2 linked regions of the Homo sapiens genome follow. The protein of the gene in region 2 interacts with the protein of the main gene of each other region in a pairwise test. Each region holds a gene or a part of one and is shown on either strand. Other genes may lie near its edges.

Region 1 (7,000 bases), on a different chromosome or scaffold from region 2:
TGAATACTTCTTGGCATGTGACAGGGTGCATGCTTTTCTTAGTTGTTAGCGGTCCATCTCCCCCACTAAAATGTGAGCTCTGTAGGGCAGGGTTTTGTCCACCTTGTGTCTGTAGCATCTAGGATGGTGTGTGTGTGTGTGATGAATGGAGAAAGCTTATAGAGGGGAGGAAGGAACTTGCCCAGGACTGCCCACCACTGAGGTCTGGGGCTGGGCAGGTTTCCTGCTTTCCTAAGGAGCTCACTCACTTGTAAGGCACCAGGCTTTCCTGCTGTGCATTTCTTCAGTGCCGCCGCTTGGCCCCATTAGCACCTTTGCTTGGAACGTCTACTCTAGCTGCTTCTTCGCCTTCTGTGGTAGCAGGCTTCCCCATTCCGTCCCACTGTTGGTCTCTAATCCCCTGCTCCTTGTGGCTTCTTCATGTAGCTTTTTGTGTCCCAGAATCATGGATTGACTCACCAGGGTCTCTATGGGACTGCCAGGTTCTGAGGTGTGTGGCCCTGGTCTTCCTTGTAATCTGTGGCACTGGGCGCATTGACCCCTCGGTCTGTTTTCTCTAATGGTCTTTCTTGGTTGCCAGGAGACTGACCTCACCCCACTTAGTGTTCCTCATGCCTGCCTGGTTGCTGCCCACAGCCTCTTGAGCGTCTTCAGCACTTTATAGTCAGTTGTTAGCTCTGTGCTGTGTTTCCTGGATCCTCAGCACCTTTGATGGACACATCTTTGGGAACATACGGTGTGAAATTCCCATTAGATTCAGAAATGTTAGGACATCTTAGAATCCAGGAAATGGGGTGACAGTGCAGTGGTCATTGACCTGCCAGTGTGTCCAGGCCCTGTGACCTTGTCTCTTGTCCATATAGTGCGTTCCTCGGAGTAGATGGCCAGTGGATAGTTGTTAAATGTATTGATTAAACCTAAACTAGTCTCTGGTTTTCATGTTGTGTCCCCTTCGAAGTACATCCACCATGCCTTGTCCCTTGTTAAATGTGTGATGTCTGCATCTCCTGTTCTTTCCGGGAATCTTGGGAGGATGTTAGGTCATGCAGTGCGGTTTGCATGTGTGCATCTTTACTGGTATGCACGCATGTGCATGCATGCGTGTTCCTGTGCACGTTGTGGGAGTGTGCATGTGCGTGTGTCTGCATGTGTTCCTTCTGCTCTGATGCAGGGTTTTCTGGCTGCCCCCTCAGACCCATCTTCCCTGCTTCATGTTGTCCCTTTCTTCATGCTTCCTCTGTAGTAAGGCTTCCTAGAGTTGCATCCTTAACCCTCATCTCTGGGTGGCCTTCCTCCTGTGGGTTTGGCGACTACCTCCTCAGTGCGTCCTGGCCTTCCGTATCTGGACCAGTCATGGCTCCAGAGTTGTGGCCTCGGCACCTTCAGAGCCTGCCTGGAGGTCCCCTCTGTTCTCCTCGCCAGGCTCCTGCCTGCATGCTGGAATTTGGGTGTCCTTCCTTGTCTTTAGTTCCCTCTTTTCTCTGCTATCCACCTCCGTTGGGTCAACAAGTGCGGTCAGTTCTGTGACACTGTTCTTGGCCCATTGCCAGGGCCTCTTTCACACCTTTGTCCTCTGGCCTGGAGGACTGTCCCCGTGCCTTGGATGCAGTTGCTTCTGCCTGGCACAGCTGTGGGTCTCCCCTCTCAAGTAGGAACCTACTTGTGGCATGAGAGTCGCTTCACCTTCAGTGGCTCCTTATTGTCCCCAGGGCGGAACGGGCTGCAGGTGGCACCCAGGCCTCTCTGTGCCTCGGCTCCAGCTGTCTCTTGTGGCTCCCCACCCCAAATCCTGGCAGGTCCCTTCCCCACAGCCACCCACCCCTCTCCTCCATCGGGAACAGAACTATGCTGCCACCTCTGGTGACCTCAGCACGCTGCATCACTGTCCCCGTCCACGTGCTACCCTGTGGGCCCAGGAGAGCCCTGGGGTCCCTGGGTAGCAGAGCGCCTGGCCATGCCTCTGAGGCCCCTAGTGCCGCAGAGTTGAGCTGAGGGTCTCGCGCTCGCCCTCTGACTGACCCAGCCCTTGCAGGTGAGTGGATTGCTGTGCTCTGGTGGCCTGAGGGAGGCCACGCGCCTTCTGTGTGTTCCAGAAAGGGTGCCTCCCACTGCATGCTTGCTTATCTGAGTTAGAAGAATGCTGTGGTGGAGTTTAGTGTAAATTTTTAAAATATTTTTTGAGCCTTATGATTATATAGTTTTTGTGTTTCTGAAGTAGGAATTAAAGTGGGCATTAACAAAATATTTAACTTTGGACTTAAGTTATAATTCAGGTTCTGAAGAATAAAAGTAAGGTTAGTTTGTTTTGATGCCTAAAAAGTCCTCTTAGGGAATATTATTTTGAAGCCCTTTACTATGCTGTTAATAGTGCTTGGCTTTTAACTTGGTACCAGGGAATTGGAAGGTTTCTGTCATTTTGTGACGATATTTTTAAATTTCTTTGCAGGTAGAAGAAGAAAGGTGCCACTCCGGCATGAAGACAGACTCGCTTAGTCGCCAGTCACTTAAGCTGAGTGCATTGTGATTTCCAATAATTGAGGCAGTGGTTCTAAAAGCTGTCTACATTAATGAAAAGAGCAATGTGGCCAGCTTGACTAAGCCGCCAGCGCACAGCGCGGCAGGACGCGCCCGGGTCTCAGCGGACTTGTGCATGTTAGCTGTGTAGATTTATGTGAGGGCTTGTAAAACTCTGGTCTTGTAAACTAGTCTTAAGCGCTTTTAATATGGAGACAGATGAGAGCCCCTCTCCGCTCCCGTGTGGGCCCGCAGGAGAAGCGGTGATGGAGAGCCGAGCTCGCCCCTTCCAAGCGCTGCCCCGTGAGCAGTCTCCACCACCTCCCCTGCAAACGTCCAGTGGTGCAGAGGTAATGGACGTTGGCTCTGGTGGTGATGGACAGTCCGAACTCCCTGCTGAGGACCCCTTCAACTTCTACGGAGCTTCTCTTCTCTCCAAAGGATCCTTCTCTAAGGGCCGCCTCCTCATAGACCCGAACTGTAGTGGCCACAGCCCGCGCACCGCCCGGCACGCACCTGCGGTCCGGAAGTTCTCCCCTGACCTTAAGTTGCTTAAGGATGTAAAGATTAGCGTGAGCTTTACCGAGAGCTGCAGGAGTAAGGACAGGAAGGTGCTGTACACAGGAGCAGAGCGCGACGTGCGGGCGGAGTGCGGTCTGCTCCTTAGCCCTGTCAGTGGGGACGTGCATGCTTGTCCCTTTGGCGGGAGTGTTGGTGACGGGGTAGGCATAGGGGGTGAGAGTGCTGATAAGAAGGATGAGGAGAATGAGCTGGATCAGGAAAAGAGAGTGGAGTATGCAGTGCTCGATGAGTTAGAAGATTTTACTGACAATTTGGAGCTAGATGAAGAAGGAGCAGGCGGGTTCACGGCTAAAGCAATCGTTCAGAGAGACAGAGTGGATGAAGAGGCCTTGAATTTCCCCTACGAGGTATGTTGGCAGCCCCTCCTCTAGAGGGCTCTTAGCAAAACCCAAAGAGAGATTTGGGAATTGCAGCATCTTTTGAAAGCAGGGAAATTAAAAAAAAAAAAAACAAAAACCAAAATCCCCTCTGAGGTGGAATAATGTTAATGTGGAGAAGAGAAAGATGTAAGGAGTCCAGATTTTTAAAGTTTCCTAATGAAAAGTTTGGCCCATGGGTAGGCCCTGCATCCCTGATCTAGCGCGTGGGGCAGCAGGTGCTGCTGAGTTACGCTCCTTGGCAGTGTGTGCCCCTGGACCAGGTGTGTTGGTGTCAGCTGGTAGCTTCATCCTGTTTGTTTTTCAGATGATCATGCACCCTAAGGGCACATCTAGGCCCCCTGAGAGCACCTCCTTTCTGTGTCTGTTCTCAGGAATGCTGTTGAGCTCTCCTGTTGCAGGAGCATGAGCGCCAGGGGCTCTGGTGTCTGAACAGCGTGTTTTGCAGGATGACTTTGACAACGATGTGGATGCTCTGCTGGAAGAAGGCCTTTGTGCCCCCAAAAAGAGGCGAACAGAGGAAAAATATGGCGGAGACAGCGACCATCCGTCCGATGGAGAGACAAGTGTGCAGCCGATGATGACCAAGATTAAAACAGTGCTCAAAAGTACGTGTGTGGGTCAGAAGCAGTGGGTGTTCCAGGGCAGTGGAGGGGTGGTTGCTTCCTTAGCAGAAATGCTTTGAGAGAGCTCTGGTGCCAGGTAGTGGGCTGGGTGGAGGCATGTTTGAGGACAGGACAGAAATATCTGAGGAGGGAAACACAGGATGGGAGGACGTCCTGATGCATGACCCAGATGCGGATCCTGGTGTGTGCTATGGAAACCACAGAGCAGCAGGCACTGTGCAGAGGAATGGGAGGGGACTTCTGAGGGGGTCAGGAGGGGATGTTGGTATATGCCAGGAGCCAGCATGACCATCAGCTGGAGGGTGTGGAGACCAAGGGCAAGGTGGGTACACAGTGAGATGGCAGGTGATAGTTGTGATCCAGGTTCTAGTCCTGGACCAAGTGTCACAGGAAGCCACCAGAAGCAAGTGGTGTTACCTGATTTTTGTTTAACAACATGGCTTCTGGGCCACAGCATGGTGTGTGCACTTCAGCTGGGCAGGGTGGAAGTGCCCTGGTCGACGTGGCACTTCCTCAACTTTGAGTTGAGGGTAGTGGGGAGAGCACTTGAGAGGCGCCCAGAGTTGCACTGTGAGGCTCTGTCATCGATGTGGTGCAGGTGTTGGGGGAGTCGGAGTTGGTGGCTTGGAGGCACCTATGAGGGTCCTGGTGGAGATGTGGGGCTCGGTAGAGGGACTGAAGAGATGCACGGGGACTCAGGCTCACAGGTGAGACCCCAGGCTGAGGGCTGGGGTGCACAAGGTGGCAGGGTGCGACTGGGAGCAAAGCAAGGGGCGGGTGGCACATGGCCATCCTCCTTGGGCCATTGAGGGGACAAGTTAGCTATGCCAGGTGCCACATGTTGCTGCCTATGTCGTGTTGGTAGCAGTTAAGCAGGAGGGCTTTTGGTCTAGACGGTTGCAGGCAGGGTAAACCTGGGGCTTCAGCTTCTGGGGCTGGGGGCAGGAGTCTTGACCTCGGGGCCTCTAGGAGGCTGGTTTGGTGCTGCATTTTCAACAGGCTCATTCAGAAGGTAAACCCACATTCGTCCTGCACAGCTCACTGGTCAGCAGCCATTCTGGCCTGGATGCCTGGATGTTCACAGACGGACAGCTGCATGTGACCCCCACCTCAGGTGGCTGGGCCAACTTTGTGACCACTCACTGTCACAGAGGAGCAGCCCCAGCGGACCCGTGGCCCGTCTCTTGCTTGGCTCCGTATTCCCTTTGCTTCTTTTCCTGACTTAACCTAAAGCTGGCAGGAGGCAGCTCCATCTTGGCCTGACTCTGTGGGGAGAGAGCCCACGCAGTGTGCATGCACCCCTGACCTTTAACACTCCCTCCCTGAATCATCACCTGATGGTGGCCTGGGTACAGGTGTCAGGTCCAGGGTCAGGGCCACTTGGTGGGTACCTAGCCCTGAGAGTCACTGGCCCTTTTTCCCCTTATGTATATTTTTTAAGGTTTCATTTGCTTTCTTCTGTTTTTTAATTTTTTTTTTGAGGCGGGGTCTTGCTGTTACCCAGGTTGGAGTAGCTCACTACAGCCTCAGCCTCCCAGGCTCAAGTGATCCTCCCACCTCAGCTTCCCAAGTAGCCAGGACTATAGGTGTATGCCACCATGCCTGGATAATTTTAAAAAGTTTTTTGTAGAGTCAGGGTCTTGCTGTGTTGCCTAGGCTGGTCTTTCTAAGTTTTTAACTTGTTCCCAATACCTGTGAGAAAATTAAGTTTTAGTTACATCTTTGCCTTACGCTCTTCCCAGCAGTCAGGCCTGGTGGCAGGTGTCAAGTTGATAAGTCGTAAACCTCTTCCTCACAACTGCCTATAAAGCAAAGAAGGGGTTGGGAGTAGTGTATTAAACCAACTTAGAAACGGAATCATTTGAAGCAGTGTTTTGTATGCTGCTGAGAGTGCAGCTCAGTTACAATAAAGACTTGTCACCTGGTCACTGGGAGCAGTGGCTGACAGCCATGCAGTTTATTAGCAAAGCTCATCCAGCCCCAAGGCGCCTCTGGCCACAACCAGACAGGCAGCAAAGGAGTCCAGTGTCCACAGTGCTTACCAGATGTGGAGGCAGGAGCTGAGGCTGGGACTTATATCTTGCACAGACCTGTTCTGTGCTCCTTCATGTGCTGGTTTGACACGTGTAAATTCCCACCTCAGGCCACATGCTATCTGTCCTAGGCCTGGAGGCATAGCAGTGAGCAAGGCAGAGAGGAATTTCGATTATCTGTGAAGACCCAGTTAAACACATGCTAGTACCCAACAATTTCTTGTGCAGGAGGTGCTGTGGCAACAATTCCAAGTGTTTTTACAGTGATTATAGGATGTTCTTGTCTTCCTGTGCAGGTCGTGGCCGCCCACCTACAGAGCCGCTGCCCGACGGGTGGATCATGACATTCCATAACTCTGGAGTCCCGGTGTACCTACACAGAGAGTCTCGGGTGGTCACCTGGTCCAGGCCATACTTCTTGGGAACGGGAAGCATACGGGTAGGGGAGGCATCAGTCGTGACTTTAGGCTTGTAAGTTCTCAGACCAAAACGTGCACATCCACACACATGGCACCGCAGCCAAGCAGAGGCCGGTGAAAGGCATCAGAGTTTCAGACTCTCGGGTTGTCCTTGTAATCCATATTGCAATTTCACTATCCACAGAAACACGACCCTCCTCTGAGTAGCATCCCTTGTCTGCATTATAAGAAAATGAAGGACAACGAGGAACGGGAGCAAAGCAGTGACCTCACCCCTAGTGGGGATGTGTCCCCCGTCAAGCCCCTGAGCCGATCTGCAGAGCTGGAGTTTCCCCTGGATGAGCCTGACTCTATGGGTGCTGACCCGGGGCCCCCGGACGAGAAAGACCCACTAGGGGCTGAGGCAGCCCCTGGGGCCCTGGGGCAGGTGAAGGCCAAAGTCGAGGTGT
Region 2 (7,141 bases):
AACTTCTAACACAGTACTCTAACCAACTTAATTAGACATTTCAGCTACTTAAAAGGAGGCTGGGATACAAACAAAAGAAAAGAAAGACAGAAAGAAAGACAAAAAGGAAGAAAGAAAAAGAGCAAGGTGCAGTGGCTCATGCCTGTAATCCCAGCACTTTGGGAGGCTGAGGCAGGCGGATTACCTGAGCTCAGGAGTTCGAGACCAGCCTGGGCAACATGGCGAAACTCTCTCTCTACAAAAAATACAAAAATTAACCAGGCGTAGTGGCACACGCCTGTAGTCCCAGCTACTTGGGGGGCTGAGGCAAGAGAATTGCTTGAATCTGGTAGGTGGAGGTTGCAGTGAGCCGAGATCGCACCATTGCACTGCAGCCTGGGCAACAGGCTTTCTTTTTGCCTCAAAAAGAAAAAGAAAAAAAAGGTAGGTAAATTCAAAAACAAACAAACAAAAAAAACTTATTAATTGGAAACAAATCCAAAAATAAAACACCTCTGAAGTTACAAGGAAATGGGGGCAGTTCATTCACGCATATTTTCAGGATTCAAAGTTGTTCAAGATGAAATATTCAGTAAAATGACTGCTAGATTATCTATAATCCATACTTGCAAACAATTAACACAAATAACTCTAAGTTATCCATAGTAGTGAATGGGGTAACAGATACACATCTGACTTTAGAAATAAAGCATATGGTCTAAATAGATAATCGAAAGTAACAGATTTCTGGTGCTTAAAGTATATCATCTATATACATTTACCCCTCAAATTACAGCTTGATTTGGGCTAATCTCAAATTAATTTCTAAGTGGTAAGAGAGATCTGGACAAATAGTCTGAGAGACCAGGATTTCTAAAAAATACAGAGTAATATAATAAAAACTGCAACTTCCTTGTATCAATAGAAAAGAACGTTTTAACACATTCTCATCAATTCCACAAAGAATAACTAAACTAGGCACAGAAAAGTAACATTTCAAGTCCTACTGCACACTAGAACCAAGTTAGCACCTTGCTGTTTCTATTAAACGATCTAGGATTAAAAACTGGTTTTGAATAATCCCATATATGGATAATCCAAAGGTAAACAGACACACACAAACTCTCATTTACAAGACTTCGTCACCAAGCACTTACAAAATACATTTCATAAGACAGAAGAGAAAATGGAGCAAGAGGTGAGGTCACCTACCACTTTAGTTCTATTGAAAGAGAGAAGTCATTATGTGCTCTCCCCAAACAGTAGGTAGCCTCCAAAAACAACACACACCCCTACACCCCCCTAATCTGGTATTGTCATTCAGTGGGGTGACCTAGGAAGGCCTTTGAAATGTGTTGTATCAGCTCAGAGGGAATTAGACCGCATACGATGCCACAAAACATCAAATAAATGTAAAACTATAAAGATAATACATCTAAAATTAAGATGTATTAATAACTAGGCATACAAGCTCTCTCTGAATACAAAGTGTGTAAGAGCTGATTTCCAAGATCCTTTGCAATTAAACGTTAGTACATGATGAAAGTTCTTAAGGCTTAGCCTCACTTGCTGCTAAGCCTGCTACCTGAGTTTCTACTAGGCTGTGACCAACTTTTGAACTTGCCACGATAGCACTAAACTACTGTTATGCATCCTACTGATAAAACTGGACATGTGGCGCTTAATACGCCAAACCAGAATCATCAATGTTTGTTAAAGAACTCTCCCGTTACTATTGTGATGTCCACTCCGGAAGATTATCTGCATCTGGTTGAGGTTTAGACAGAAGAGAAGCAGTTAACAGACACCGACTGTATACACAGCGGTCTGCCGGCACACTGCAAAAAAGCCGATACGCCTTACAGGCTCAGGAAGTTGACTAACCCAGGGAAAAGCCCCATGCCCTCCTCTATGAAAGGGAGTGTGTGGTTGGTAGAACCCAAAGTAAACACGGAAAAATTCATTCAAGAATTTCCTTAAGGCCTACCGTGAAGACGTCGGAGGCAAGTTAAGACGTTGGGGAGCAGGTAAGAGAGACCAGAGTTCAGAAACAGACCGATAATGATCTACCAGCTCCGGTGGGGAGGTCCAAGCTAGGGGAGTTTGTGCCTCCTCTGTGGAGTTGGGGAGGAAAGGTACCGGGCGGGCTCTGGTCCTCCTCCGACAGCCCTTTCCAGCAGGCCCGGGGCTGCTAAGACCCAGGCCTGGCGTTGAGCAACAGCAGCTCTCTTCCACATGGTTGCTGGAGAGCGACCCTCCGAGCTGCCCCGAGGCCATGTGGCTGCAGCCACAGGGTGCCCAAACCCGGTGCACGTTCAAGACGTGAAACCAGAGCAGAGAAGGTGCCGGAGGAAAATCCAAAGAATGGGATGTTGGGGTACAAGACTCACTTCCTTTGGGCTTTGTCCTTCTTGGCCTTGGTCCTTTTCTTTCGGGCCTGGAGCGCAAGCACTGCAGGAGAGAGGGATGGATGAAGGGCGAATGTGGAGGAAAGGAGGCGACCAAGGTGAGGGTGGAGACCCAGCAGGGGCGCCAGGCCCGGCTGCGGGGCCTGCCTCGGGGGCGGCTGCGGGCTCCGGCGAGGCGGCCGGCCGTGGGGCTGGCGGCCCACGGGGCGCAGAGCAGCGCCCGGGCGGGATGCGCCGGAGGGGTCTCAGGCCGGGTCAGGGGGCGGGCGGGTGGGGGTCTGCGTCGCCCGCCAAGGGCCGGGCCCTGGAGTGGCCCCAAGGCGCGAGCCGGCCTGGCGGGGAACAAGGGGCGGCTACGGCCGGCGCCAGAGGACGCCCGGACTGAGGGGCGCGGACCCGCAGCCCAGAGGCAGGGGGTGTGGGGCGGCGCCACCTCAGTGGAGGGGCGCCGCACGTCCGGGAACCGAACCGCGGCAGTTAAGCGAAGCTCCCGGCGCTGACCCGGGCCTCGCCCCGGCGACCATTGCCCCTCGTGGCGGAGGCCGCTCCACCGCTCACCTTTCCGCTCCATGGTGAGACCGGTAATCGCCAGGCGCCTGCGCACTCGAGTGGCGGCGACTCCCGCTCCCGCCGCGGCCCAAAACCGAGCCCGCTCACACTCCGCCCTCAGTCCCGCCCCACCCCCGCCCCACGATGCCGCGCGCTTGCGCGTTGGGCGCGGAGCCTACCACCTGCTCCCGAGGAGGGGGCGGCAAGGAGAGGGAGGGGGCGCAGCGGGGAGGAACGCCGGGGTGAACGTTGAAGGAGTGTTAGAGATCCAAGCTTGGAAACCTGGCAAGGTTAGTTTTGTTCTATTTGTTTAGAAAAGGCGCAGAGAGCGGCAGGGCTCTCTGCATGCTGCTGAGTCAGAGCTTCGGAGGCAACTGGGATCTGCCTCAGTTTCCTGGCCTGTAAAATGGATTAATCAGGCATGTCCCAGTTTCTCCTTCCCTGAGCTATTGTGAGCCCAGTTGAGATACTATTTAAAGAAAATGGAAAAAAATTACATGTGAGAAAGAAAAGGGAGTGGGAGCAACACAAAAAGACTGGAAGGAAAGAACCTGTGACCCTATTATCACTTGAAAAGTAAAAACTTCAAAAGTGAATTTTCTCTTGAAATTTCAAGTTTAAGTGAAAGCTGTAAAGGAAAGAAGGGGAAATGAGAATAAAAACGTTTAATGTTTTCTTATTCTACCACCTTCAATACATGATAAAGCTGTCTTGTTTATAAGTTTTTTTTGTTTTTATTTTCTAAGTGCATTATCTCATTTGATGTTTATGGCAACTTAAAGGCAAAATAGTTATTACTTCCATTACACAAAGACACTAAACTTAAGAGGGCCTGCCTATATGTTCAGAATCTTGGTGTACGACCCAGTTATTTAATCATGAAGCCCTTATTGTATAGCAGGCTCAGCAAAGTTTTTCTTTGGGCCGTACAGTAAATATTTAGGCTTTGTGGACCATAAGATCTCTTTCTCAGCTACTCAACTCTGCCATTGGAGCTCAAAAGCAGTCATAGAAAATATGGGCTGTGTTCCTATAAAGATTTATGTATGGACACTGAAATTTGAATTTCATATAATTTTCACGTCATAAAATGTTCTTCTATTGATTTAAACATGGTCTTTGTTAGGTTTTGAAGGGAAGGTGAGGGTTAAAGAAAGACAGAGAGAGCAGTCTTGCTCTGCTGCCTAGGCCGGAGTACAGTGGCATGATCTCGGCTCACTGCAGCCTGGACATCCAGGGCTCAAGTGATCCTCCCACCTCAGCCTCCCAAGGTGCTGGAATTACAGGTGTGAGCCACTGAGCCAGGCCCTTTTGATCTTTTTTCAACCGTTTCAACGGTTATTCTTATTTCAGATCTTAGTTTACCAACCCATGTTGTAAAGTACCGCAGCTGGACAGAGTGGAAGCTCTGAAGACCTTTGCTCTGAACAAGTAATTGAGAAGGGAAGATGAGAGGGCAATAGTACAGCACAAGTCAAGCATGGGGGCTTTGGCAGAACTTATTGAGCAAAGTAAGTAATTAAGCCCATCCAGAGAAGGCAGTTTTTGAGCTGGGTATTAGGAAATATGTAAGATTTCTATAGGTGGAGAAGGAGATGTCAGGCATTCCTGAATGAGAAAATACATTGAGCAAAAAGGCACAGACGTGGACACCTGTAGGTGGGGGCTAGGATTGGGGCTGGTAACAACTGAAGGGATGAAATGGAAGGTGAGGCTGGAAAGGCAGGTTAGCCAAATTTGAAATTTAGATAATTGATATATGTTGCATGGAACCTGAATGATAGCATGTCTGAGTATATTGCAAAAGAAGACAGTACCTGTTGGCCAAGGAAGGATGCAGCCCAGTCTATTCCCTGCTGTAAAGTTGAAAACAAAAGGAAGGTTAGGACAGACAGGGAAGCCCTAGACTCTGAGGGTTGTGTGAGTTCAGGATAACCGCGTGTGGTTTAGAAAAGACAGGGAGAGAGCTGATAGCTAGGAAAAATCCCAGAATTGGGAAAGTACTGCCCACCCCAAAGTAAACTGTTTGAGTGTAGAGACCCTGCTTAGGTTTTCCTTGATGTAAACTCAGTGCCTACACAGTGTTAGGCACTTAGTAGGTGCTCATATATTTGTCTAATAAAAGAATAAATGGGCCAGGCACAGTGGCTTATGCCTGTAATCCCAGCACTTTGGGAGGCCGAGGCGGGCAGATCACAAGGTTAAGAGATCGAGACCATCCTGGCCAACATGGTGAAACCTCATCTCTACTAAAAATACAAAAGTAGCCGGGCATGGTGGCACATGCCTGTAATCCCAGCTACTTGGGAGGCTGAGGCAGGAGAATCGCTTGAACCCGGGAGGCGGAGGTTGCAGTGAGCCGAGATTGCACCACTGCACTCCAGCCTGGGCAACAAGAGCAAAACTCCGTCTCAAAAGAAAAAAAAAAGAATAAATGATCTGCAGTTTATGAGAAATGTCAGGATGAAAGAGAGAGAAAACACTGAGAGGGACAATATTAGAGCTGTATTAAATCTGAATTGGTTATTGCAGACCCATCAAAAAGGAAATATGTTCAGCTTGGCATGATACAGTCGTACCTATCCTGACTCTGAGTAGGCTATTGCTTCTCTAAGAGCTTACTAACCATCTGTTTAATAACTCGTTTTCAGAATTTTTCCAGAGTCAATGTGAAGTTCACTGGACTGAGTTCCCAGAATTGACCATTTCTCTTTTTTTTCCATCTGTTTTTCTCTATTCCTCCATCATGCTTTGGCTCTCCACTTTTTCTAAGACCTCTATAACTGTTCATGTAAGCACGTTTGTTCATTTCCCCTATTCTACAACCATCCCCTTTTTGTGCATTTTGCTTGAAATGTAACTTTAAAAATAGTTTCTTCTCCCAAGTTTGCAGAGCTTGGCCTATTCTGGACTTTTAACTTTCCAGAATTTTTTTTTTTCTTTGACAGGGTCTCACTCTGTCACCCAGGCAGGAGCGCAGTGGCGAAATCTTTCCTCACTGCAACCCGGGCTCAAGCAATTTTTTCACCTCAGCCTCCCCAGTAGCTGGAACTACTACAGGCACATGCCACCATATCCACTTGATTTTTGTGTTTTTTATAGAGATGGGGTTTTGCCACATTGCCCAGGCTGGTTTGGAACTCCTGGGCTCAAACAATCTGCCCCCCTTAGGCTCCCCAGAAACTATTCTTAAAAGTGTTAGCAAAAAAAAAAAAAAAAAGTGTAGGCCAAGCACAGTGGCTCATGCCTGTAATCCCAACACTTAGGGAGGCAGAGGCAGGAGGATACCTTGAGCCTAAGAGTTAGAGACCTGCCTGGGCAATACAGCAAGACCCTTTTCTGCACAAAAAGGAAAAAAGAAAGACACAAAAAAAGTGGTAGCTATTCATTCTTACATGCATACCCCTTCTCCATCAGCTATTTTTTTCCTGCAAGTCCCTTTAAAAGTAGAGGTATTCGGAAACCATAACCCATCATATTTTTGGCTGCTCATGGTAGTCTCAGAATTTAATTTCTGAAAAGATCCTATCCCTTTTGAGCTAACTTACTTATTAAGACTCCCTGGAATCTTCTCTAATACTTCTTTGACATTTTAGAAATCTGAACGTCTAAAGTTGAGTTCACACGTTTCTTCATACCCAACATTGTCTGCCTTGATTATCACAAATTATTATGCTTTGTCTAAAGTTTTGATCTGACTTAAATCCAAAGCAACACATCCCTTTATGGCCTCCCCTACGTCTTGCGAGATGAAATGGACAACAGGAGAAAGTGAAAATACATGAGATGATTTATTTTGAATGAGTTAAGATTTCCAATAGCTGTCTGCATAATTGGAAAACCCCAAAAAAACTTTCTCTTACCTTTTGGATACATGGTTTTGTGAATTATATTGGGAAAATCTACATATTATAGGCCTGGGTATCAGGAAACACATGGCACATTTAAAGGCTAATTGAAGAGAATTTAATGAAGGAATAAAGGTGTTAAGGAAAACAAACAAGGGATAGTTAGACATCCAGGGACTAGCAACAGCTGGAGTTTTTACCATCTCTAGGCCTGAAGGGAGAAGAGGATGGAGGTGTTATCAGAACCCAGGGAGAGGTTTATTATTAACAATTTGCCAGGGGCCGGACGCGGTGGCTCACGCCTGTAATCCCAGCACTTTGGGAGGCCAAGACGGGTGGATCACCTGAGGTCAGGAG

What was found. Proteins that work in one complex are often made in the same cells at the same time.
Region 1: the proteins of SRPK1 (region 2) and DGCR8 interact in binary tests that used the Homo sapiens proteins (3 or more experiments, as listed by UniProt).

Annotation. Positions count from the first base shown.
Region 1 is NC_000022.11:20,083,241-20,090,240, forward strand, and holds part of DGCR8 (microprocessor complex subunit DGCR8), read left to right. Parts: exon of another isoform or gene 1-2,032; intron 2,033-2,446; 5' UTR 2,447-2,723; coding exon 2,724-3,443; intron 3,444-3,921; coding exon 3,922-4,081; intron 4,082-6,428; coding exon 6,429-6,571; exon of another isoform or gene 6,572-6,603; intron 6,604-6,735; coding exon 6,736-7,000.
Region 2 is NC_000006.12:35,918,099-35,925,239, forward strand, and holds the start of SRPK1 (SRSF protein kinase 1), read right to left. Parts: upstream 3,001-7,141; 5' UTR 2,959-3,000; coding exon 2,946-2,958; intron 2,431-2,945; coding exon 2,370-2,430; intron 1-2,369. UniProt on the Homo sapiens protein: Serine/arginine-rich protein-specific kinase which specifically phosphorylates its substrates at serine residues located in regions rich in arginine/serine dipeptides, known as RS domains and is involved in the phosphorylation of SR splicing factors and the regulation of splicing.